Homo sapiens: one gene and its partners. The protein of the gene in region 3 interacts with the protein of the main gene of each other region in a pairwise test. Each region holds a gene or a part of one and is shown on either strand. Other genes may lie near its edges.

Region 1 (4,426 bases), on a different chromosome or scaffold from region 3:
ACTCCAGCCTGGGTGACAGCGAGACTCCGTCTCAAAAAAAAAAAAAATTAGCAGAATGTGGTGGTGCACACTTATAGTCCCAGTTACTGAGGAGGCTGAGGCCAGAGAATCACTTGAACCCAGGAGGCAGAGGTTGCAGTGAGTGGAGATCACACCACTGCACTCCAGCCTGGACGACAGAGCAAGATTCTGTCTCAAAAACAAAACAAAACAAGCCACAATGGCAGGTGCGGCAATGGCTCATTCCTGGTTAATTTCAGCACTTTAGGAGGCCGAGGTAGGAGGATTGCTTGAGCCCAGGAGTTTGAGACCAGCCCTGGCAACATAGTGAAACCCTATCTCTACAAAAAAAAAAAAAAATACAGAAATTAGCCAAGCATGGTAGAGCACATCTCTAGTCCCAGCTACTAGGGAGGCTGAGGTAGGAGGATTGCTTGAGCATGGGAGGTCAAGGCTGCAGCAAGCTACGATTGCTCTATTGCACTCCAGCCTGGACAACAGAGCAGGACCGTGTCTCAAAAAAAAAAAAAAAAAATAAGTAAAACCACGTCAAATAAGAAATGTATGTAGAATTAAAAGGGAAGAAAAGATCAGAGGAAACCTAGAAGAGGGTGAGGGAAGAGGAACACCTCTGGTCCATGGTTGGGCAACCTCCTGCTCCACACTGAGGTAGGTCTCTCACCACTCCAGGACCCCGAGAAGGGACCAGTCCCCACTTTCCAGCCGTTCCAGAGGAGCATATCTGCTGATGATGACCTGCAAGAGGTAAAGGCTCCTAATTTCTGTCCCTGAGGGGTTGGGGATGGAGGAATATGAGAGACAAATATATTTTGGACCACATGTCAGCAACTGGAAATCATCTTAACTGTTCTTGGTCTCTTTTACAGTCATCCAGACGTCCCCAGAGGAAATCTCTGTATGAGAGGTTAGAGAGTAGAGATAAGGCTGGGCCCATTTGGTGGAGTTGATTGCCTGAGTCCTTGGGAGGTTTGGGCTGTAGGAGCTGGGCTATAGAGGGAATATTGAGTCTCCACAGGGTCTGAGGGGAGAAGGTAAAACCCCCCTTTGATCTTCAGTCTGCATCTCCCCAGCTTTGTGTCTTCTAGTGATCGACTTCGAGAACTAGGACCAGATGGAGAAGAGGCAGAGGGCCCAGGGGCTGGTGATGGTCCCCCTCGAAGCTTTGACTGGGGCTATGAAGAACGCAGTGGTGCCCACTCCTCAGCCTCCCCTCCCCGAAGCCGCAGCCGGGACCGCAGCCATGAGAGGAACCGGGACAGAGACCGAGATCGGGAGCGGGATCGAGACCGGGATCGAGACAGAGACAGAGAGCGGGACAGGGATCGGGATCGGGATCGAGATCGAGACCGGGAACGGGACAGGGATCGGGAGCGGGATCGAGACCGAGACCGAGAGGGTCCTTTCCGCAGTGAGTGATTTTGGCTGGAGGTCAAGGTGACCTTAACTGAGGTTTATGTGGGTCCTACTAAGTGAAATGTGGCATGGTCTATGTCTTGTGACTATGATTTGTGCTCCCAAAGGGTCGGATTCATTCCCTGAACGGCGAGCCCCTAGGAAAGGGAATACTCTCTATGTATATGGAGAAGACATGACACCCACCCTTCTCCGTGGGGCCTTCTCTCCTTTTGGAAACATCATTGACCTCTCCATGGACCCACCCAGAAAGTAAGGATGACAACAGGGCATGATGAGAAGTCCTGGGAGAATCCTGGGGTGTGAGACCTGAGGGAAGAAGCTGCCCTCCCTGCAGCCGCCTATTATCACTGGGTTTGGTTGGGTCCAGAAGAGCCCCTTGGCTCTCCACTGACCGTGTTTTCTCTTATCCCAGCTGTGCCTTCGTCACCTATGAAAAGATGGAGTCAGCAGATCAGGCCGTTGCTGAGGTTGGAACTTCCCAAATCTGTTCTTCCCATCGCTTCTGCTGTTCTCATGTGTTCTCCTCAAAATACTAGATGCCAGGAAGAAGTTGGTTCCTCTTGATAAAGAAAGCCTCTCCCTATTCACACAGAAAAACTCACATTCTCAGATTCCTTATTCAGTCTCCTCCTAGGATAGCAACTCCTGGAATAACTTCTTTGGTTTATCTGTAATGTTTTCCTCCCCATCCTCTGCCTCCCCTCTTCTGCTTCAGCTCAACGGGACCCAGGTGGAGTCTGTACAGCTCAAAGTCAACATAGCCCGAAAACAGCCCATGCTGGATGCCGCTACTGGCAAGTCTGTCTGGGGCTCCCTCGGTAAGAATGGGATTCTTCCTTTCCCATCCTCTCCCCCACAGGCCATTCCTTTTGGTTCCCCCACACATCCTTGGGTTTCCTAGAGATGATCGAGGTCAGAGTGTGTGCGGAGGCTATGGGAATGGGAAGGAAAATTTCAGATCCTCTGTCAGTTAGAGGTAAAGAAAGGAGAGAAAAGGATTGAAAACAGCTTCCAAAGCAGTGACTGGAACAGGGAAGAAAGTGGGAGCTGGAGTGAGATTGGTGAGGAAGATGAGTGTCTCATGGGGCTTGTTCATTTTGAGATGGAGTAGAGTGAGTTTCATAAGTATTCGAAATCAGGGATCTGGAACTCAGGTGTGAGGTAAGGAAGGAAAACATAGATTAAGTCATCCACATCACAGGGTGGCTGCCAAACAATAGGATCATCAGGGAGACTCTGATTTCAGAGAAAAAAAAACGACCCAGGACTCAGTTTGAGGAGTACTCTGGGACTATGTTAGGAAACAGGACTGTTCACCTCACACCCCACATGTCCCCAGCTGTCCTGACATGTTAGGCTAACGTTGAGCCTAACGTTAGCAAAGGAGACAGGAGGAGGGGTCGGAGGGCTGGGAGCAGCACCGCAGGGGCCTGGGCCACTGAAGCAAAAGGACACACACTTTGAGAAAGAGGGAGTAGCCAGCAGTGTTGAGGCACAGAGATCACAGGATGGGAGTGGGTGAGAGAGATTCTCTGTAGCTCAAGGGTGGTGGGGATGGAACCATTGGATGGGGTGAAGAGAGTAACATGTCTGGTGGAGGGAGGAAAGAGGAAGGGGAAGAAACAGCTAGAGGCTTGAGAGAGAATGGTGAGGGCCAAAGCTACACCCTGAATGAGTTCTGGTGGAGCTAGTAGCATTTCTTAGTGTGAATAATCCATTTTCCCTGAAAGTAGATTTTCCTGGGAAAGGAGTGAGCAGAAAGAAGGGCTCAGCTACAGTGGCCCTTCAGGCAAAAGAAAGGAACTAGAATTGACCAGCATGTCAAAAAAGGGCTACAGAGGTTTTCTAGTTTTTAGCTTCTGACATACTGACTGTAAGTAGTGGGTTAATATCATTCACGTGTCTCAACAATGACATTTGGGATTTTTCTAAGAACAAAACATTCATCAAAATGTCCACTTATACTTTTCTTGGCCATGGGTTGGCACAAAGGAGCTAAGGAAGACAGGCCATCCTGGCCACCAGAGGGCAGCGTGGAAACTGGGCTTCCAGGGGCCAGTGGCCAGGAGTGAGGTGGTCAGGAGTCAGCCTCAGGGTCTGTTCTATGATCTCCTTTAGACCTTAACTGTTCCTCTCCTCCCTCCCTAGCTGTCCAGAACAGCCCTAAGGGTTGCCACCGGGACAAGAGGACCCAGATTGTCTACAGTGATGACGTCTACAAGGAAAACCTTGTGGATGGCTTCTAGGGAACAGAGCTGGATTCCTTGTGCCTCATATGCCCCAATGCTGGTCTCAGTAAAACACTGAGGTGGAAGCTTACACATCTCCCTCAGCCTCTGGTTTTTCAGCACTTGGGATTGGGGTTAAACCTTTAAAAACGGCTGTCAGGTTTGATCTCAGTGTAACAACATGGCCAGTGCCTGTTCCCCACTCCCTTGCCCCAAAAGGATCTGGAACACAGGTGTTGTCGCAGCTGTTTTAATTCAATCCCACGCCCCTGTCCAGCAGGAAACCCCTTATAGAAAACCCAAATCCTCATCTTGGAGTTTCTCCTTCAGCCAGGGCAGCACTTGAAAGAGGTTGATGTGAAAGTCTCGGGCGTGAGCAGGTACCTGCTTTTGCCGCTTCTGGTTTTTGCAGACATCCACTACTCCCCAGCTGATTACACCAACCTGCAGAGGCAGTGGGGTGCCATGGATCATTCAGTAGAATTCCTAATCCTGGAAGCATGGCTGTTCCTGCTTGTGTCTTAGCTGACCTAAAGGAATCAGACTAGGGACCCAGCTCAGCCTCGTTCTTGACACACGCAGGCAAGACATGCGGTCCTAAGGTGAGGCAGGCTCTGCCTACCTCGAATTACTAGCCACATGCATTGAGCTTTCCTGCTTTGGGGCCCATGCTGACCACTTGGCATCTCCCCAGATAGGAAAGGGAGGACTCACTTGAATGAAACGACTTCTCTTGTGAACTATCAAGGGGCCGCCAGAAT
Region 2 (7,124 bases), on a different chromosome or scaffold from region 3:
GGACTTTGAATGGCATTGCAGGTGAAGGGTGGGGTAGGGGACACAGTCATAAGGACTTTATTTTTTTATTTTTTGAGACAGAGTCTCGCTCTGTCACCCATGCTGGAGTGCAGTGGCGCGATCTCAGCTCACTGCAACCTCCGCCTGCTGGGTTCAGGTGATTCTCTTGCCTTAGCCTCCCAAGTAGCAGGGATTACAGGAGCATGCCACCACACCCGGCTTTTAAAAATATTTTTAGTAGAGACAAGGTGTCACCATGTTGGCCAGGCTGGTCTCGAACTCCTGACCTCAGGAGATCCACCCGCCGTTGCCTCCCAAAATGCTGGGATTACAGGCATGAGCCACTGTGCCTGGCATAGGACTTTAAATGAAAAACTGAACAAATTTAAATATGTAACTACAGATTAGATAACAGGATGTTAGGTAATATGCTATTCAACACTATCTAATGAGTAACACTACAACTACTAGTAGTCTTTTAACAGATCTGATATGTAATAGATAACAATATTATTTAATATCTAATATTATCTAGCATGTTATGTGAAACCCTATACCATCCCTTCTTAAATACCTCTTACCAACACACCCCACATTTACCATGGTATGTGGGCTTCCTTGCTGCAGAAAGCCATAATCAGCTGTCTCTGGTTAGTTATGTTCCTGGTGGTATTTGGCTGATGGTCATCAACAAAGCAACCAGGAAAAATGTAAACAATTGGCAAATTTGGATAGAGTATGAGAACTCCTTATACTATTTTTGCAACTTTTCTATAGCTTTTAAATGATATAAAGATGAAAATATTTTATTTTGTTTTTAGTTTTTAATTTTTTTTTTTTTGAGACAGAGTCTCGCTCCCTAGCCCAGGCTGGAGTGCAGTGGCGCGATCTCGCTCACTGCAAGCTCCGCCTCCCGGGCTCACGCCTTTCTCCTGCCTCAGCCTCTGGAGTAGCTGGGACCACAACTGCCTGCCACCATGCCCAGCTAATTTTTTGTATTTTTTTTTTTAGTAGAGATGGGGTTTCACCATGTTGGCCAGGATGGTCTCGATCTCCTGACCTCGTGATCCACCCGCCTCGGCCTCCCAAAGTGCTGGGATTACAGGCGTGAGCCACCGCGCCCAGCAAAAATATTTTAGATATCAGGAAATAGTCATAAGGATAATGGGAATAATAAAATTGAGCATTATATAATATGGCAGTTCACTAGTTTATTCTTTTTTTTTTTTTTTTTTTTGAGTCTCACTCTGTTGCCCAGGCTGGAGTGCAGTGGCGTGATCTTGGCTCACTGCAACCTCCACCTCCCGGGTTTAAGCAATTCTCCTGCCTCAGCCTCTAGAGTAGCTGGGACTACAGGCACGTGCCATCACGCCCGGCTAATATTTGTATTTTTGGTAGAGATGGGGTTTCACCATGTTGGCCAGGCTGGTCTCAAACTACTGACCTCAAGTGATCCACCTGCCTTGGCCTCCCAAAGTGCTGGGATTATAGGCATGAGCCACCACAACCAGCCTCACTAGTTTAGTCTCTATTAGCAATATTTAAAATTTTCTATAGTTAAAAGACATATGGGAAAACACATTAAAATATAACAATTTTTAAAAAAATGTTTATCAACAAATATAGAAGTAGACACAAAGAAAGACAAAAGAAATCAATTAGAAGCTTAACAGTTACTACCTTTACATCTTGGATACATGGGTAATTAAAAAACTTTTTCTACTCTCATTTCTCCTATTTCAGACTTTTCCACAATGATACAGTTCCACAACAGTACGAAATACTTGGAAAACATGAAACAAAATAGTTGAGAAATTTTTAAAAATTCCTAGACGTCCAAGCCCACGAGCCTTGCTCTCAACGTCCTTTCAATCAGGTCCTAACTTGCTTTCCCTACGAGTCCAGCTAGTTCCTCTGCCTCAATGAGAATGTATCCAAGAGGTGATCAACTCAGGCTCTGACCTGGACTGCCTAGGTGCCAACCCCAGCTCTACCTCTCACTAGTTGGCTGCTATGCACCCTGTGTCTCACTCTCATTTTTAAAACAAAGAAAAGCAATACTTCACAGAGCCACAGTGTGGCCTAAATTTATTTGTATAAAGCACTTAGAATGAAGTTACCAATTACGGCTTAATGATTATCAACACCCATTCCCGAGGACACACTCTCGGTTGGGTGAACATCTCTATAAAGGAAAAAAGCCAAGGACCAATCACATAGAGATTTGCCCTCAGTAGCCAAGAAGTCCCCTCCCTGCAGCTCTTTTAGAAAGGTCAGGCTGGGGAAGGCGAAAGTTGTGAAATACCCTGACTGCATCGCGGTCCCCCATAAAAGTTAAATGCTCCCCGCCCTTCGTGGAAGCGGACGCAACTCGCTTTCCTAAAAAGAGGTCAGAAGGCCTCCCGGGATCATCCAGCGTCCTGCAGGGATTAGGGAGAAGGACCAGGGCCCCTGCAGCTGAAGCTATGACTCCACCCGGGGACCTGACCTCTTCGGGAAGTTAACAAGAGACCACCAGTCACCAAGTGACAGGGACTGCTTTAAGGTTCTCATTTGCGTTATCTCTTTCAGTTCCCAAAAACGATTCTACTAGGATGGTTCTAATGTCCCCATTACCAAAAACAGCAATGGAAAGTATAAGGACATTGAGTAACACTCCACGTCACACTGCGAGAAAGCGGTCGCACAGGTAGGGTGGAGAGAGGCAGGCTGAGCGAGGTCAAAGTCCTGGAAACGCTCACAGCAGGGCACAGAGGACCCCGCCAATTCCAACCCCCGGGATGCGAGCACAGCACCCCCATCCCAGAAAGCTTCCGTGGACGGGAAAAAAACCCCATTCCCCGCCCCCACCAAACCTCCGCTCTCCGCCAAGGCTTCTTTTCCCTTGCTTGGATCATCGATCATCGGGTCGTTGCGACCCCAAGCGAAGGTGACAAGTTCAGAAGGACCCGCCAGACGCAGAAATGGCTCAAACTACGCGGTTATGTAGCAACCGCAGGCTCACACACCGGAAGTGCTCGCGTCTCCACAGAGCGTCTGGACTCCACTTCCCAGAATTCCCCGGTTCAACTGCTTGAGCCAAAGGGTCCGCCATTCCATGAAGTTGATGGACTACAGTTCCCAGAATTCACTCGTCCACCCGCCTGAGCCAACTTGCCCGCGACTCAGAGTGTGTCTGGACTCCGCTTCCTCCAATGCCAAAGGAAAATGTCTATAATCTCACTCTTCAGCGGGAAGCGTTGGACTCCGCGGTGGTCCTTGACTACACACACCGCAGTGCCCACCGGGAACGTATTCCATATCTCTGAGCGCCTGGTGGGGAATGTGGACTGTGACCCTGTGAGTCGTCCGTCTCTCTTCCTGAGTCTTTGAGCGAAAATAGTGTATAGACAGGAATTCCTGAAGTCTAAACGCCTCCCACGATGACAGGAGTGTTATTGGGAAGAGAACAAACGAGGAGATAAAATCTTCAAGGATTAGGATAATCTGACGATGGGAGGTTAAAACTAACGGTTTAAAGGATGAGCCAGGTGGAATGGTTTGGCAGGGGCAATGAGGAGCAGGAAGACACCAGCCCCTACTCCAGAAGCTGTGGGACCACTGGTTTGGCAGGAAAAGCCACCCCCATTTAAGATCACAGCTACTAGTGGAGAAGCGGTGTCGTCATGGAATAGCTATCTTCCCATAAACTTTTCATGGTATTCATATTTCTCCTTAGATGTAGAAACATCAAATTTCAGCGAATGTAGTGAATTGCTCAGTACCTCAGAGCAATAATGACTGATGAAGAGCTAGGCATTGGTATCAATCTTACATTGAGATTGTAAATGCAGTAAAACGGGAGGATTCTATAGGTGAAGGAGCATGTCTTATAAAGAGTTTTCTTCCTGGCCAAGCGCAGTGGCTCAAACCTGTAATGCCAACCCTTTGGGAGGCCAGGGCAGGACGTTCCCTTGAGCTCAGGAATTGGAGACCAGACAGGGAAATACAGGGAGACTTCGTCTCTATAAAAATTTTTTTTTAACTGGCCAGGCATGGTGGCCTGATCTTGGGACTACAAGTTCCAAGTACTCAGGAGGCTGAGGTGGGAGGATTGCTGAAGCCCAGGAGTTTGATTGAGGCTGCAGTGAGCTATGATGCCACCACTGCCCTCCAGCCTAGGCAACAGATACCTCAATAATTAAAGATTTTTTTTTTTAAGTTTCTTCTTATTTCTTGGTGAAACATAATTTCTTTATTATAGTTAGCAATTTAAAAACTGGCATTGGTTAAAAAATAATAACAGTATAAAGCTAAATTAGGAAACAATTCATCTAAAAACCTGCTCTTTTGAAGGTAACTTTTTTTCTCCCTATAAACATACATTGGCCTATAAACCAATATTCTTCTTTTTAAAAAAAATGGAGTCTACTGTTTACCTATTTTTCTAAACTAAAAACTTTTCAAAATTTTGTTTAGACACAAAAATAAGGTGACTGTGCCAAACTTTTGATGCCAAACATCCGCTCTCTGAAAATTGAGTGATCACTATTCATATGCCAGTTATAGCTGTATCCTTGATCTACTCTGCCTTCCCGAAAGATAAGATGTATTGACACACTCAATCGTAGCATGCAGGGAACTGAGCCTAAAAGGTTAGGGGCACTTGGCATCAAAGGTCCCTTCTGCTTCCCAGGTCCGTGCACTCTGGGTCTGTGTTGGGAGGAGCAGCCTCTATGATCTCCTAGATGCCTTTGGGGTCATTCTTCCAGTGTTAATGGACAGCAGGTCCTGGCTTCTGTTGACATGACCAATCCAAACTAATCTCCTAAATCAGTTGCTTATCTCTACCGTTGTTTTATCCAGAACAGGTTTTCTAATTTTTTTTTCCAAAGTAGATAGGCTGTGAATTTTTAAAATTCTTAGTTCTGTTTCCCTTTTAATTAATAATTCTGACTTTCTGTGGTGTCCCTCCCACATGTGGGAATTCTGGGAGATACAATTCAAGCTGAGATTTGGGTGGGGACACATCCAAACCATGCCATTGATGACACTGACAAAAACAACAGGGAAAGGACTCCCTATTCAATAAGTGCTGCTGGGATAACTGGCTAGCCATATGCAGAAGATTGAAACTGGTCCCCTTCCTTACACCTTATACAAAAATGAAGCTGGGCGCTGTGGCTCACCTCTGTAAAAATGGGTAATAATGTCCCCACTTTTAGTTACTTGAGTCTTTTTTAGTCAGTCCTGCTAAAGTTTTCACAATTTTGTTAGTCTTTCAGAATAATCAACTCTTGGTTTGGTTGATTTTCTTTGTATTCTTCTTCTGTATTTTATTTATTAATACTTTAATCTTTATTATTTCCCTCCTAATCACTTTCTGTAAGATTCTCCTTTTCTAGTTCATGAAAATAAAATTAGGCTGTGGATGTCAGATCTTTCTTCTTTAATATAAGCATTTACAGATATAAATTTCCCTCCTCCTACTGCTTTTGCCTCATTCCAAAAGTTTTGGCCATTGTTTTCATTTTCAGTTGTCTAAGGTATTTCCTAATTTCACTCCTGATGTACTCTGACATATTATTTAAGAGTGTGCTGCATGCACACGTATGTTTATTGTGGCACTATTCACAATAGCAAAGACTTGGAACCAACCCAAATGTCCACCAATGATAGACTGGATTAAGAAAATGTGGCACATATACACCATGGAATACTATGCAGCCATTAAAAAAGATGGGTTCATGTCCTTTGTATGGACATGGATGAAGCTGGAAACCATCATTCTGAGCAAACTATCACAAGGACAGAAAACCAAACACCGCATGTTCTCACTCATAGGTGGGAATTGAACAATGAGAACACTTGGACACAGGGTGGGTATATATATATATATATATATATATATATATATATATATATACACACACACATACATATATACATATATATACATACATATATATACACATACATATACATATATATACATACATATATATACACATATATATATAAAGAGTGTGTTTAGTTTCCACATACTTGTGAATTTTCCACTTTTCATGATGTGATTGAATTTCAGCTTTTGTGATCTAGATTATAATTGGAAAAGACTTTTATGGTATTAAACTTTTGAATTTATTAAGATGTTTTATTGAATTTATTACAACGTTTTCAGCCTGTAGTGTGAGAAAAATTACAAATTATTGTTGAATTTATATTGTATTCAACCAATGGAACACTACACAAAGCCACAAATACTAAGAATGCAACTTCGGAATAGAGGAGGAGGGGAAGACAGGAACCAAGTGTGAACAGATATTATCAAAATAATGCTGTGAACTGCAGTATTTAGTGTACTCTGCATTTCAACTCAGGTGTCCCTGAATTATTTGTAGATTTCCTCTCTTAGATACAATTTAAAAACATCGCGTTTGCTCCTTTTAATTCATTTAACACATAGTGAACACAAAGTGATAATCAGTGTTAAAGTTGTGAAGATGCAGCAGAAAACACATGTCACTGACATTCTAGTGGTAATCAACTTTGATATGTTCATGATTCGTTTTGTAAATGCATGAATGAACTCTTAAGGTCTGTCTCCTGAATAACTGTAACTGTCAAACTTTTGTTTGAAGCCCTACTGCACAACTTACAAGGGTTCTCCACTGTGACAGTCCCAGGACCACTGGGGTATGCTGAGCTATGGCTGAAACAGGCTTTAACTTAAATGTTTTTTCTCCTACAGGACTGGATGAAATGTATCATCAGCATGGATTCTGTGATAAATTACAAGATACAAACTCAAAAGGAACTGCTTTCTATGTGCCTCATATTTTAATGTTTCTCCCCTTTGTGAATGCTTAGGTGAGACTGTAGTCATGAAAACTGAGTAAAGACTTTATTACACACATTACTGAGGCTTCTCTCCAATGTGGACATTCTGAAGTTGAAGACTTGAGGCCTGAATGAAGCACATACCACCCTCCTCATACTTCCGTAGTTTCTCTCCCGTGTGGAGCTTCTGAAGCATAATAAAATTCAAGTGATCCAGCAATTCTATTACTGGGTATATCCAAAGGAAAGGAAATTAGTATGTCACGGAGATATCTGCACTCCCAGGTTCATTGTAGCACTACTCA
Region 3 (7,041 bases):
GCTACTGGGTGTTGTAGGCTGGTAGGTCATGTTCACAGTTGTCTCTGGGTGGAGGGGTGCTGGAATATTGAGAACTGAATCTGCTCTTGCTGAGGTGCTTTCAATCTTATCTGCATTCTCTAGAAGGTTCCTGTTTTCAGCAACAGATGTGGTGACCTCTTTGCTTTCCCGTGCTTCTGAGCGGCCACTTTGAGGGTCCAGGGGCTCAGGCACCTCCGTCTTGTTCTCTCCAACAGAAGGATTGAACACCAAAACCATAACACTGTCCTTATTCCCACTGCCCAACCGCCTTTCCTCCTCAATGACATCCAAGGGCTTGCTGTCAGTCAGATTATTAGGAATAAAAGCCACATGACTGTCACCTGGTGAAAAGCTGCTGGATGTCCTTTCACCCAACTTCTCACCTGCACATGGTGAAATTTTGCCAGTGGGCTGATTATCAGCCCCTCCTAAGGAAGCAGAGCCCTGTTTGGGGGTGGTGTGGAGAGAATCCTGCTCCCCTGGGTTGACTCCTCTCTTCTCTTCACAGTTGCCTCTTCCCACCCCAAGGTGGTGGAGGTCACTGTTCAGCAGATGGCCAAGTGCATCGGTGGCTTCCGGGTGTGCTTCCCCACATGGATCCCTTCCCTCCAAGGCTGACAGATTCTCTTCCTTGTGGCATCCCAGATACCCTTCCTGGGCTGCCTTTCCCTCCTGTTCAACTCTCCTGGGAGGAACATATTTCAGATCCAGCTTGGCCTCTCCCTTTCCCTGACCTAATTGTGCTTCCAGTTTACTTGGGATTTCCTTCGATGCCAAAGTCAAATTCAGAGCAGGCTCTGGATGGGCGGAATGTGATGTGTGCTCACTGCACACCTGCAGTACATGTGCCCCCACTGTTTGGGTCTCTGAGGGAGTGCTCTGCTTGCTTTCTGAGGTAGATGGTTTAGGATGACGCACACTCTTTCCCTCTGAGGTACTGTCAGTTGCAGGGAAAGCTGCCGGGACAGCGTGGTCTGGCAATGTCTTCTGTGGCCCCTCCCCACCCCCAGGTATCTGACCCCGTGCTTCCCGGGAGTCGAGGGATAGAGGCTGTGGATGCTGCGGAGTCAGGCTCCCGACTGCAGCTACAGAGCTGCTTGCTCTTTCCAAAGAATGCCTCCTCAGTTCCTCATTGTCAAGGGTCTTTGCCAGTTTATCCTTGGGAACATGCCGGGGAATTTCAGCATCCCTTTTAGCCAAAACGTCTAGACTGGCCTCACTCATCACATTCCTCCAACTCGACAGACTTGGTCCCTGAATACTCCGCGTGGTCTGCAGGCTATCTGTGCCTCTCTCCACTGTGTGCTCTTCATTGAGTTCCCTCTGAATGGTTGAAGAAAGTCTAAAATCTTTCAGGCTGGCAGAGCCAGCCTGAGAGCCTTTCCCAAAGCCCTGAAGTTGGTGAAATTCCTTATGGAAATGGGTACGGTTTTCTGGCTCACTTGAATTTGTATTTCCAATTTCATCTCCCAGGTCACATGTCTTGGACTCGTCATGAGAGGAGCTGACCTCCAACATGATTTGATTGGCATTCGTATCTCCCAGACTTAAGATGCTTTCATTATTATTTCTTGCTGCATTTCTGTTGTCCCGCAACTGAGTGTAACATGATTTCTTAGGAGCCACTGGGACGCTCATTGTCAACCCTTTGGTGGGGCTGCTTGCCATGCAGTCCTACTTAATGGAAATGGGCTGCCTTCAAGCTGCAATCAGATTAAGAGGAAATTCTCAAGCTGCTTGTTCTCCCCTGACAATGTCACCTTGCGACACTGCTTTAATCATTCTCAGAACAGCTTGAAAACCAAGCATTGTCTTGATATACAGCAGGAAGACTTATCTGTTAGGTTCCTGCTGAATGAGAGCCAATCAGTCCATGAGACCTAGAGAGAAATAAAAATATATTCACATTAGATTGACAAATAGAACTTCTCAGGAGAAAAAAGTGGTAAACACAGATTTATTTGTCATTTCTATATTATTATTTCATTCAATCAATAGTTTTCTCAAAAAACCTTTCTGATCAGGGCTCCTCCTGGCCAAATACAAAAATTAAACATCAAAATGTTTAATGTTAGAAATGGATTATAAATGCATGTGAGATCTTAAATCTAAATTTTAAACATCCACAAGTCTATACTGATACTGATTTAAAAGGATGGAGGAGAAGTAAGGGCTCTTCTTTACAGAAGAATATCAACGAATGTAGAAAAAAATTATAGAATTTGAAAAATCACTATTTTGCAATCGCTACATTCATAATTATCTTACACAAGGGATGCCAAAGGTACAAACATTGGGTAAAAGATTGTTGGGGAACAAGATATTCATAGATGCTTAAAGTATCTTCCCCCAGGCTACTTCATTTCTTACAAAACGAAAATTTTATCTTTACAATGGAGAGATCTGGTAGACACCACATTAACCACGTGATCAAATTTAACATCACTAGTAATGAAACTGACATTACGGACTCCTGATATTAGTTAGTTCTCAGGGCCACACATCACCTATGCAGTAGTTAATGTTCAACCAGAATTTAACCATGAGACAATAATCTGGCAAATTTAAATTGAGGTATGTATTGCAAAATAACTGGCCTAACTGGTCCCAAAAAATGTCAGCGGAGCCTGGATTTTCAAAACATGTTAGCAAAGGATATTATTAGGACAATTAGAGATTTAAATATGGACTGTATATAAGGTACAGGTATTTTATAATTAATTTTCTTGGGTGTGTAATCGTGCTATAATTATGCCAGAGATTAATTTGGTTCTTGAAATATACATGCTTTAGAATTCAGAGGTAGTATGTCATGATTTTTCTAACTTATTCTCAAATGATTCGACCAAGAAAAACGTGTATGTATGTGTGTGTGCATATGAGAAGGAGAAAGAGTAAAAGAGAGAAACTGGCAAAAGTCAACCATTTGAAAATCTAGGTAATAATTCTATTACATCTGCAACTTTTCTATAGGTTTGAAATTTTCCAAAATAAAAACTTGGGGGAAATGCTTTACTCTGGCCTTCGAGGCCTGCATGATCAGGCCCTGAACACCTTTCTGGCCTCAACCCCACCTCACCCTCTGCTCTGCAGGCTGCAGCCACATTGGCCTCATTCCTCACAGTACCATGTTCATTACTCTCTGCCTCAGGGCCTTTGCGCATACTCTTCCATCTGCATGGAATGTGGAATCCTCCCCCAACCTCATCTTACAAGTCCTTTGCATCCTTCAATATGCAACATAACTACCACTTCCTCCAGGAAGCGTTCCTCACTAGGTCATCCTATAATGATGGATTTGTAGTATCCTGTATTTTCACTTTGAAGAATTAAAAAAAGACTTTCAGATTTGCTAGACACTGAAAATAAATATTGTCTAATACCTGGCATACATATTAGGCACGTATTATGTATTTGCAGCACAAATGAATGAATAAATGTCCAAATGAATGATGAGGAAGATCAGCGTTATTTCTGCCCCCAAAGAGTTTAAAATCTACACAGGATATGCTTTTCTGTTAAAGTAGACTCACAGATCACCACTAAACCATTCTATTCAAGGTTGACATTGTTTCATCCACTATTATGAGTGCATTTTATTAGGCACTGGGGATAGGGGATTTTAACAGCAACAAGGTTCTGCCCCGTCACCAATTCCCCCAATGGAGACTTGAAGCCTTCCACACTTTCCTCCTCATTCATCAAGAATGTGCAAGCACACGTGCACACCACATGTGAGGCTACTGTTATGTTTCTCCTGAAACAGGTTACATGGCAACGTGGCCACCCACTTGTTTTCCCTTTATCCCTGTTAATATGTTGTTTCATATATTAAAAAGAATATGAGGGCTGGACACAGTAGCTCACACCTGTAATCCCAACGCTTTGGGAGCCTGAGGTGGGAGGATCACTTGAGGTCAGCCTTGGCAACACAGCAAAACCCTATCTCTATTTAATAAAATGTATATGTTACAAAGCAAAATAATATAACACGTGACAGCCCATCACCCAACCCAAGGACACCTTGCAGCCATCCTCATGCTCCTCCTCACTGAAGCCCTCTGTGTTTCCAACTTAGAGATCTCTTTTCTTTTGCGTCTATACATAAGCATGTAAACTTTTTTACATACATAAGATCATTTCCTATAAGCTGGTTTTTGTTCCATTTTTTAAAATTTGCCTCTTCTAGCCCATACCCCAAGACACATTAACATCTAGATCTTTCCATTTCTTTCCCCATGTTTGCATGATCATGGGAAAATACAGAGTCATACATGTGCATGTGCGCTTGCATTTCCGTACCACACTGCTCTTCTGTTCTTTCCACGACTCCCTCACTGTCCTCATCCTCCCCGCTCTCATGCTTTTTCTCCTTCTCCATCTTCTACCAGCCTTATCTCCACTAAGCCAGTAGCACCCCCTGGTGCAGCCTGACCCCAATATAGCCCTCAACCAAGTTGCTCATACCCTGATCACAGTCTTCATTTCCTGACACAGAGGGGATTCTCAACAAACCCTTGTGTCTTTGTTTATTCAATTTTAAAAGCGTTTCCCTTGAAGATACACATGTTCTCTAAGCACAAATACAAAAAGCATGTAGGCAAATCAATAAGATCACAGTTTAAAAGAATGCTGTGCTCTCTGGGATGAGAAACGGGTATCTTGCAAAGTCAAGAAGGGCAAGAAAGTTCATAAATATAGGCCATCCACAGAAGGGAACTGCCTCTAATTTTCTGTGGGCAGAAGTATAAATATGCAGCCAAGAGCCCTCTTCGGTTTGAATTGTTGAAGCTGGGAGAAAGAAAGAAACTTTGCTCAGCAGAGACAAACAAAAACAAAGTACCAAAGTCCACAACATGTAACATGATTGCAAGAAAGTGACAAAGAAATATAAAACCAATGTCATGCTAGAAAGAGTTGTATTTTAATTTTTAAGGAACTACATCATAAATGTTCTTTATCTTTGTCAGTAAACAACTGGTACTCACTGGTAAGGGGACAGAAAGAAAGGTGGAACCTCCTAGGGGCCCAGTATTTTCTCAGCCATTATACAAATTTGTTTAAAAAATTGAGACAGTATCTCATTCTGTTGCCGAGGCTGGAGTGCAGTAGCACGTTCATAGCTCACCACAACCATGAGCTCCTGGGCTCAAGAGATCCTCCTGGGTCAGCCTCCCAAGCAGCTGGCACTCCAGGTGCACACCACCACATCTGGCTAATTTTTTAATTTTTTGTAGAGATAGGGTCTCGATACATTGACCAGACTAGTCTCAAACTCCTGGCCTCAAGTGATCCTCCTATCTTGGCCTCCCAAAGTGCCAGTATTACAGGCATGAGTCACAGCACCTGGCCTAAAATTTAATTTTAAATTAAAATTACACAATTACAAGTCTTTAATATTCAATTTTAATTTAAGTTAGGACACTTAATAATATTTATAGCAGGCCTCCAGAGACAGGTCTTCACATCCCCTTGCTTTTTTTTTTTTCCCACGTCCTGGTAAGGAAATGAAAGCACAGAGAAGGTAACATTCCCAAGGTCACACAGCTCATGAGTGGCAGAGCTGGGACACATTTAGAAAGCAGAAGCTGTAAAGAAGAAAAGCTGCCCATGAATGGAATCATACACCACACAGGAAGAACAAAAGGAAAACAAACTATTGTAAGAACAAGAATAGAAAAACAAAACCAGAAACCAACACGTGGAAGTTCACATAAGACAGGAAAAGCAAATTTAAAAACTTTCTTCAATTTTATCAGGCAAAATTATATACAGGAAGTCATGTTTCCTGTCAGCTTCCCTCCTCCTTATGTGGCCTCACGCGTCTCCCTCACTCCAGCTCCCTCATCCTGCCATAAGACAGCGGCAAAGTAAACACAAACACGAATTTCTGTCCGGATCTAAATTTCAATCCAAGGCCTTCTACTAAGATAAACGTTTTCACAGAATATATAACATGATCACAGAAGTTCAAACTTGTACATAATACAAGACTGTGTGTGATTAAATAAAATATGCAAATAGGTCAACCAATGGTACAAACCCCTAGTTGAGGTGCATTTTCCCAGAGTGAGACATGTAACTTTCATATGCCTCAGATCTATTATTACAAAAAGTTAACAATAATGGCCTTAGAAGTAATTGATATTTTATCTTGAAAAAAATCAATTAGTTCAGTACTAGTTTGAAAGGAATGTAAAGATCTAGGCTTATAACCTACCTGATGCTTAAGAGTCTTCTAAGTGGCTTCCCCTGGTTCTAGGGCCAGAAAACTCACCACACATCTGGGCAGGGTCTCTGTTGGCAAGCTCTGCCTCTCTACAGCAGAATGATGCAATTCTTCCACCAGATGACCTTTCAGGTATTTACAAAGAGCTATATGCTCCCTTCCTCCCAAAACCTATTCTACTCCTTGTCAAAGAACTCAGATTCTCCCAACTGTGGGATTAGCTTTTGAAAACTCCCACCATCCAAACAGCTTTCCTCTAAGTACACCGTGTAGCACCAGGGAACCTGAAGTCCCTCCTAAACAAGGTGACCAGAGCTATGCACAATACTTCAATTCTAACTGCACCATCTAGAGTCATAAGAAAGCAAGCCTTCCATTCTCTTCTACTTCTAACCACGCATTCTAAGAATGACCTCCTCATGGACATATAAATCACCCTCTAGTTCCACATCATTAATTAAAACACCAAAGTACCATATAAGTTGTCCTAAACTCCACTGACCCAATCCGAGACATTTGTAACTGGTTTTAGCACCCATGGGTGGGATCATAAAAATATACTTCTCAAACATCACCTTGCTGGTCTCAATGCATCGTTCTATCCTTTTAAAACTTGTGGAGCCCATCCTTAATTTTTCATCGAAAATATCTGCAATCCATTCTTGTTCCCATACTATCGTGGAAAAGCTAAGAGTTCCTTCTACATTATCATTCATTGATAATCCACTGATAAATCACTCACTGGTGTCATTCATCGACACCAATGTTAGCAGAACACAGCAGGGGACAAA
Region 4 (4,468 bases), on a different chromosome or scaffold from region 3:
GAGCAGCAACTGGAGGGTGGAGGCTGGACTGTGATCCAGCGGAGGCAAGATGGTTCAGTCAACTTCTTCACTACCTGGCAGCACTATAAGGTGGGCACAGGTGGGCAGAGGCAGGGAAGGGGAGGGAGCCTGTTCTGGCTTCCTGACTTTCCTGCCCTGCCAGGCGGGCTTTGGGCGGCCAGACGGAGAATACTGGCTGGGCCTTGAACCCGTGTATCAGCTGACCAGCCGTGGGGACCATGAGCTGCTGGTTCTCCTGGAGGACTGGGGGGGCCGTGGAGCACGTGCCCACTATGATGGCTTCTCCCTGGAACCCGAGAGCGACCACTACCGCCTGCGGCTTGGCCAGTACCATGGTGATGCTGGAGACTCTCTTTCCTGGCACAATGACAAGCCCTTCAGCACCGTGGATAGGGACCGAGACTCCTATTCTGGTAAGGAGAACTCCTATTCTGGTGAGAGGATAGGGGAGGCGGGACTCCTGTTCTGGTGAGGGAATGAAAGGAGGTAGGGTAGGTAAGACGCCCCTCTGGTAAGTATAAGGATAAGCAAGCTTTTATTCCGTCAAGAGAACAAAGGTCAGGACTTTTATCCTGGTGGGGGGATGGGGAGTCCAGATTCCTTCTCTGATGAGGCAAAAAAAGAATCAAGACTCCTGTTCAAGTAAAGGGCAGAGGGTGAGAGCTAGTACTCTTATTCTAGAAAGGAAGTAGATACTTTTCTTTGATAAAGGAATGAACGGTAGACTCCTAGTTTGCAGAAAAGGTGGGAAAGATGTGACTTGTACTTTGGTAAGGAGATAGGGAAGGAATTAAGGCTATTACTCTGAAGAAAGTTGGGGGGCCAGGGCTCCTATTTTTTTGCTGAGGAGATGGAAGATCAGGGCTTGTATTCAATAAGAATGGGAGGGGCCAGGGGATGCCTGGCAAAAGCCTTGCACTGTGAGGTGCAGGTAGAGGCTTTTATTCTGGTGAGAGGACATGGACTCTCTCTCTCCCCTCAGGTAACTGTGCCCTGTACCAGCGGGGAGGCTGGTGGTACCATGCCTGTGCCCACTCCAACCTCAACGGTGTGTGGCACCACGGCGGCCACTACCGAAGCCGCTACCAGGATGGTGTCTACTGGGCTGAGTTTCGTGGTGGGGCATATTCTCTCAGGAAGGCCGCCATGCTCATTCGGCCCCTGAAGCTGTGACTCTGTGTTCCTCTGTCCCCTAGGCCCTAGAGGACATTGGTCAGCAGGAGCCCAAGTTGTTCTGGCCACACCTTCTTTGTGGCTCAGTGCCAATGTGTCCCACAGAACTTCCCACTGTGGATCTGTGACCCTGGGCGCTGAAAATGGGACCCAGGAATCCCCCCCGTCAATATCTTGGCCTCAGATGGCTCCCCAAGGTCATTCATATCTCGGTTTGAGCTCATATCTTATAATAACACAAAGTAGCCACAGACCGTGTCTGGTTTGTATCTGCACCTGGCAGGGGTCACTCCCTGGGCCCGCCCTCCTCGTCCTCCACCTCCTCCTCTTCCTCCTCCTCCTCCTTCAGGTCCTCCAGGATGAGGTTGTCCAGGTCTTCCAGGAGGCCACCCTGGCTCAAGCAGGTGGCCACAGTGGAGCCACTGCTAATGTGAGGGTTGCTGGGGTGGAGCACTTTGGGCAGGTGGTTCTGCTTCCGGCTCTTGGGGTGAGCACAGGATGTCCCAGGCACGTGGGGCTCTAGGGAGGGAGAGGTGCTGCAGACATGGGGCTGGAGGTCCCATGAGAGTCTGGGGAGGAGGGGACTTAGGCCACGCGGGGCTCTAGGGAGGAGCTGAGACCACCAGATACGGGGACCAGCACAACTGGACATTCAGGGGTGTTGAAGATACAGGAGACCTGGGGACATGGGGGTCACCTGAGATTACAGGGGACAAAACAGGGGCCCCAAACCCAGAGACCATGGGGGCAGAGGCCATGGGGACCCTCAGGCACGGGCCACTGGGGTGAAACCTCAGAGCCTCCTGGGCAAGACCACGGAGACTGGGGGGTCATGGAGGCCATGTGGAAGCAGTGGCTGCTGCTGTGGGAGACAAAGTGGACTGAGTGGAGATTTGGGGACTTAAAGGCACAGAAGGGGACAAAGACTGTCCAGGCTGTTGGGGGAGAAGAGCCTCACCTCGCCGGTTGTAGCAGTCGGCAGCTGAGCAGGAGTGAGTGTGGGTGCTGCGGCGATCCGGGTCCCGGTCCCAGCGCGGGGGGAGGATCCGTGTTGGATACACGGGGAAGCCGCACCCGTAGCAGGGGGACGGGGACCCCATCTGTGCCCAGCCCCTGGGGGCGGGCAGGGCTGTGAGGGTCCGAGGGCGAGGCTGGGCCAGGGTGGGGCCAGGGCAGGGAGGGGCAGGGCTGGGGTAGGGCAGGGCTGAGGGGGAGCTGGGGGTCAGCGCCCTCACCGGAAGTTGTGCCGACACTTCGGGCAGTGGAACTCAGCCAGGCCCCACATCTTGTCAGCTGGCACTGGCTCGTAGCGCTTCCGGCATTTCCGGCACCGGGATACCTGGTGGTGGTGGGCAGGAAGGTACAGAGAGGGGACCAAGGATTGTCAGAGGTGTCTGAGGTTGGGGTCAGGGCTAGCAGTGTGCTGCAGCGGCTGGCCTCAGCTTGAGCAACCCAACTCAATCAGTGACTTCACGTGGGTAGCCTGATATTGACCATGGTGGGAATATTTACACCACAGAAATTGGCAAACACTACACATCTTGGCTTCCTGCCTCTTTTGCAAGAACTAGTTAAGCATTGACCAGAAGTGAACTACTAGTCAGGAGGTTCAGAAGCCAGATTTGGGGCTGTGTTTTTGAGGTCAGATTTGGTTTCTTTTCTTTCTTTCTTTTTTTTTTTAGAGACAGAGTCTTGCTCTGTCACCCAGGCTGGAATGCAGTGTTGTGATCATGGCTTACTGCAGCCTCGACCTCCCAGGCTCAAACGATCCTCCCACCTCAGCCTCCTGAGTAGTTGGGACCACAGGCACACACCACCACTCCCAGCTAATTAAAAAAATTTTTTTTTGCCAGGCACAGTGGCTCATGCCTGTAATCCCAGCACTTTGGGAGGCTGAGGTGGTAGATTGCTTGAGCCCAGGAGTTTGAGACCAGCTTGGGCAACATGGCAAAACCCCATCTCCACACACACACACAAAATACAAAAATTAGCCAAGTGTGGTGGCGCAGGCCTGTAGTCCCAGCTGCTTGGGAGGTTGAGGTGGGAGGATCACCTGAGGCCAGGAGGTGGAGGCTGCAGTGAGCTATGATCCCGCCACTGCACTCCAGCCTGGGTGACAGGGCGAGACCCCCTGTCTTCAAAACACATTTTTTTTTGGAGACAGGGTCTCACCCTGTCACCCAGGCTGGTCTCAAACTCCTAAATTCAAGCGATCCTCCCTACTTAGCCTCCCAAAACACTGAGATTGCAGCCATGAGCCACTGCGCCTGGCCAGGTTTGATTTCTGTAGTAGCTGTTCAATTGTGGGTCAAGGGTCAGGTTCTGGGGTAAGGAGGTATTGGGCTTCTCACATTTAAGGTCAGAAGTCCAGTCCTGGGTCAGGGGTTGGGATCAGAGATCAAGGCTGAGCTCTGAGTTTGGAGGTCAGGGATTGGACTCTCAGTGATTGAAATCCTTAGGTCAGAGGTACAGTCACTGAGGATAGGAGTCAGGAGTGGAGTTCGGGACAGTCAAAGTCGAGGTTAAGTTTTAGGTCATCACCTCCTTCCGCTGGGGCACGCGGCGCCACCAGACGTGGTCGCAGGAGGAGCAGGCAAACTGCCGGTCCACAGCAGGGATAAGGTCGTCCTGGGCACGTTGAAACATGCGTAGGTTGGCTTCTGTCAGTGGCAGGAGGGAGGTCGCCACTGCCTGTGGAATGGGGCAGGTGGGGATGAGGTGGGGGGGTGTCACCCCTTCTGCACCAACATAAGCATCAGCCCTCCTCTCCCTACAGACGAGTCCTCTTCCTGCCCCAGTGAATATCTCCCCTCCTGCCCTAATGGACATCCTTCTGTGCCTGCAGATGTCCCCCTCCCAACTCCCCCATCCCAAGCCCTAGCCACCAACTCACCTGAATGTCCCGGTCCTGCTTCATATCTTCTGGTGGATCCTGGGTGGAGATAGCAGGGGCAGAAACTGGGGATGGGGCTCAGGCCTCTTTCCACCCGTTTGCTGGGGGAGGCCCCCGGCCGCAATGAGTAGGGTGCCCCTAACTCGCCAGAAGCTCACAGAGCACCACTCACTTATTGAGAGCCAGGTGTGTGGCCTCAGTTGTCCTCATAGCAGCCCTGAGAGGTGGGCACACCTGTTACCTTATTGCTCAGATGGGGAAACTGAGGCTTAGGGGAGGGCTTGCCTGAGTGAGGCTAGCCTGACCCCCATACTCACTTCCTGCCTGCAAATGCCACATGCTTGTTGATGTTGTGACATATCGCCCCTTTGAGGCCACGTT

Evidence for each region.
Region 1: the proteins of MTUS2 (region 3) and NELFE interact in binary tests that used the Homo sapiens proteins (3 or more experiments, as listed by UniProt).
Region 2: the proteins of MTUS2 (region 3) and ZNF230 interact in binary tests that used the Homo sapiens proteins (3 or more experiments, as listed by UniProt).
Region 4: the proteins of MTUS2 (region 3) and SHFL interact in binary tests that used the Homo sapiens proteins (3 or more experiments, as listed by UniProt).

Annotation. Positions count from the first base shown.
Region 1 is NC_000006.12:31,951,558-31,955,983, reverse strand, and holds the end of NELFE (negative elongation factor E), read left to right. Parts: intron 1-690; coding exon 691-765; intron 766-887; coding exon 888-925; intron 926-1,091; coding exon 1,092-1,429; intron 1,430-1,541; coding exon 1,542-1,686; intron 1,687-1,849; coding exon 1,850-1,904; intron 1,905-2,152; coding exon 2,153-2,255; intron 2,256-3,585; coding exon 3,586-3,683; 3' UTR 3,684-3,897; downstream 3,898-4,426. Other genes in the region: CFB (complement factor B preproprotein), read right to left, coding at 3,954-4,109, 4,380-4,426. UniProt on the Homo sapiens protein: Essential component of the NELF complex, a complex that negatively regulates the elongation of transcription by RNA polymerase II.
Region 2 is NC_000019.10:43,998,839-44,005,962, reverse strand, and holds the start of ZNF230 (zinc finger protein 230), read right to left. Parts: upstream 3,007-7,124; 5' UTR 2,856-3,006; intron 1-2,855. UniProt on the Homo sapiens protein: May be involved in transcriptional regulation.
Region 3 is NC_000013.11:29,019,317-29,026,357, reverse strand, and holds part of MTUS2 (microtubule-associated tumor suppressor candidate 2), read right to left. Parts: intron 1,902-7,041; 5' UTR 1,690-1,901; coding exon of another isoform or gene 1,660-1,689; coding exon 1-1,659. UniProt on the Homo sapiens protein: Binds microtubules. Together with MAPRE1 may target the microtubule depolymerase KIF2C to the plus-end of microtubules. May regulate the dynamics of microtubules at their growing distal tip.
Region 4 is NC_000019.10:10,089,315-10,093,782, reverse strand, and holds the end of SHFL (shiftless antiviral inhibitor of ribosomal frameshifting protein), read right to left. Parts: coding exon of another isoform or gene 4,405-4,468; intron 4,305-4,404; coding exon of another isoform or gene 4,294-4,304; exon of another isoform or gene 4,133-4,293; intron 4,127-4,132; coding exon 4,088-4,126; intron 3,886-4,087; coding exon 3,736-3,885; intron 2,534-3,735; coding exon 2,430-2,533; exon of another isoform or gene 2,308-2,429; coding exon 2,153-2,307; intron 1,714-2,152; coding exon 1,481-1,713; 3' UTR 1,195-1,480; coding exon of another isoform or gene 1,004-1,194; 3' UTR 540-1,003; downstream 1-539. Other genes in the region: ANGPTL6 (angiopoietin-related protein 6), read left to right, coding at 1-90, 164-434, 1,004-1,194.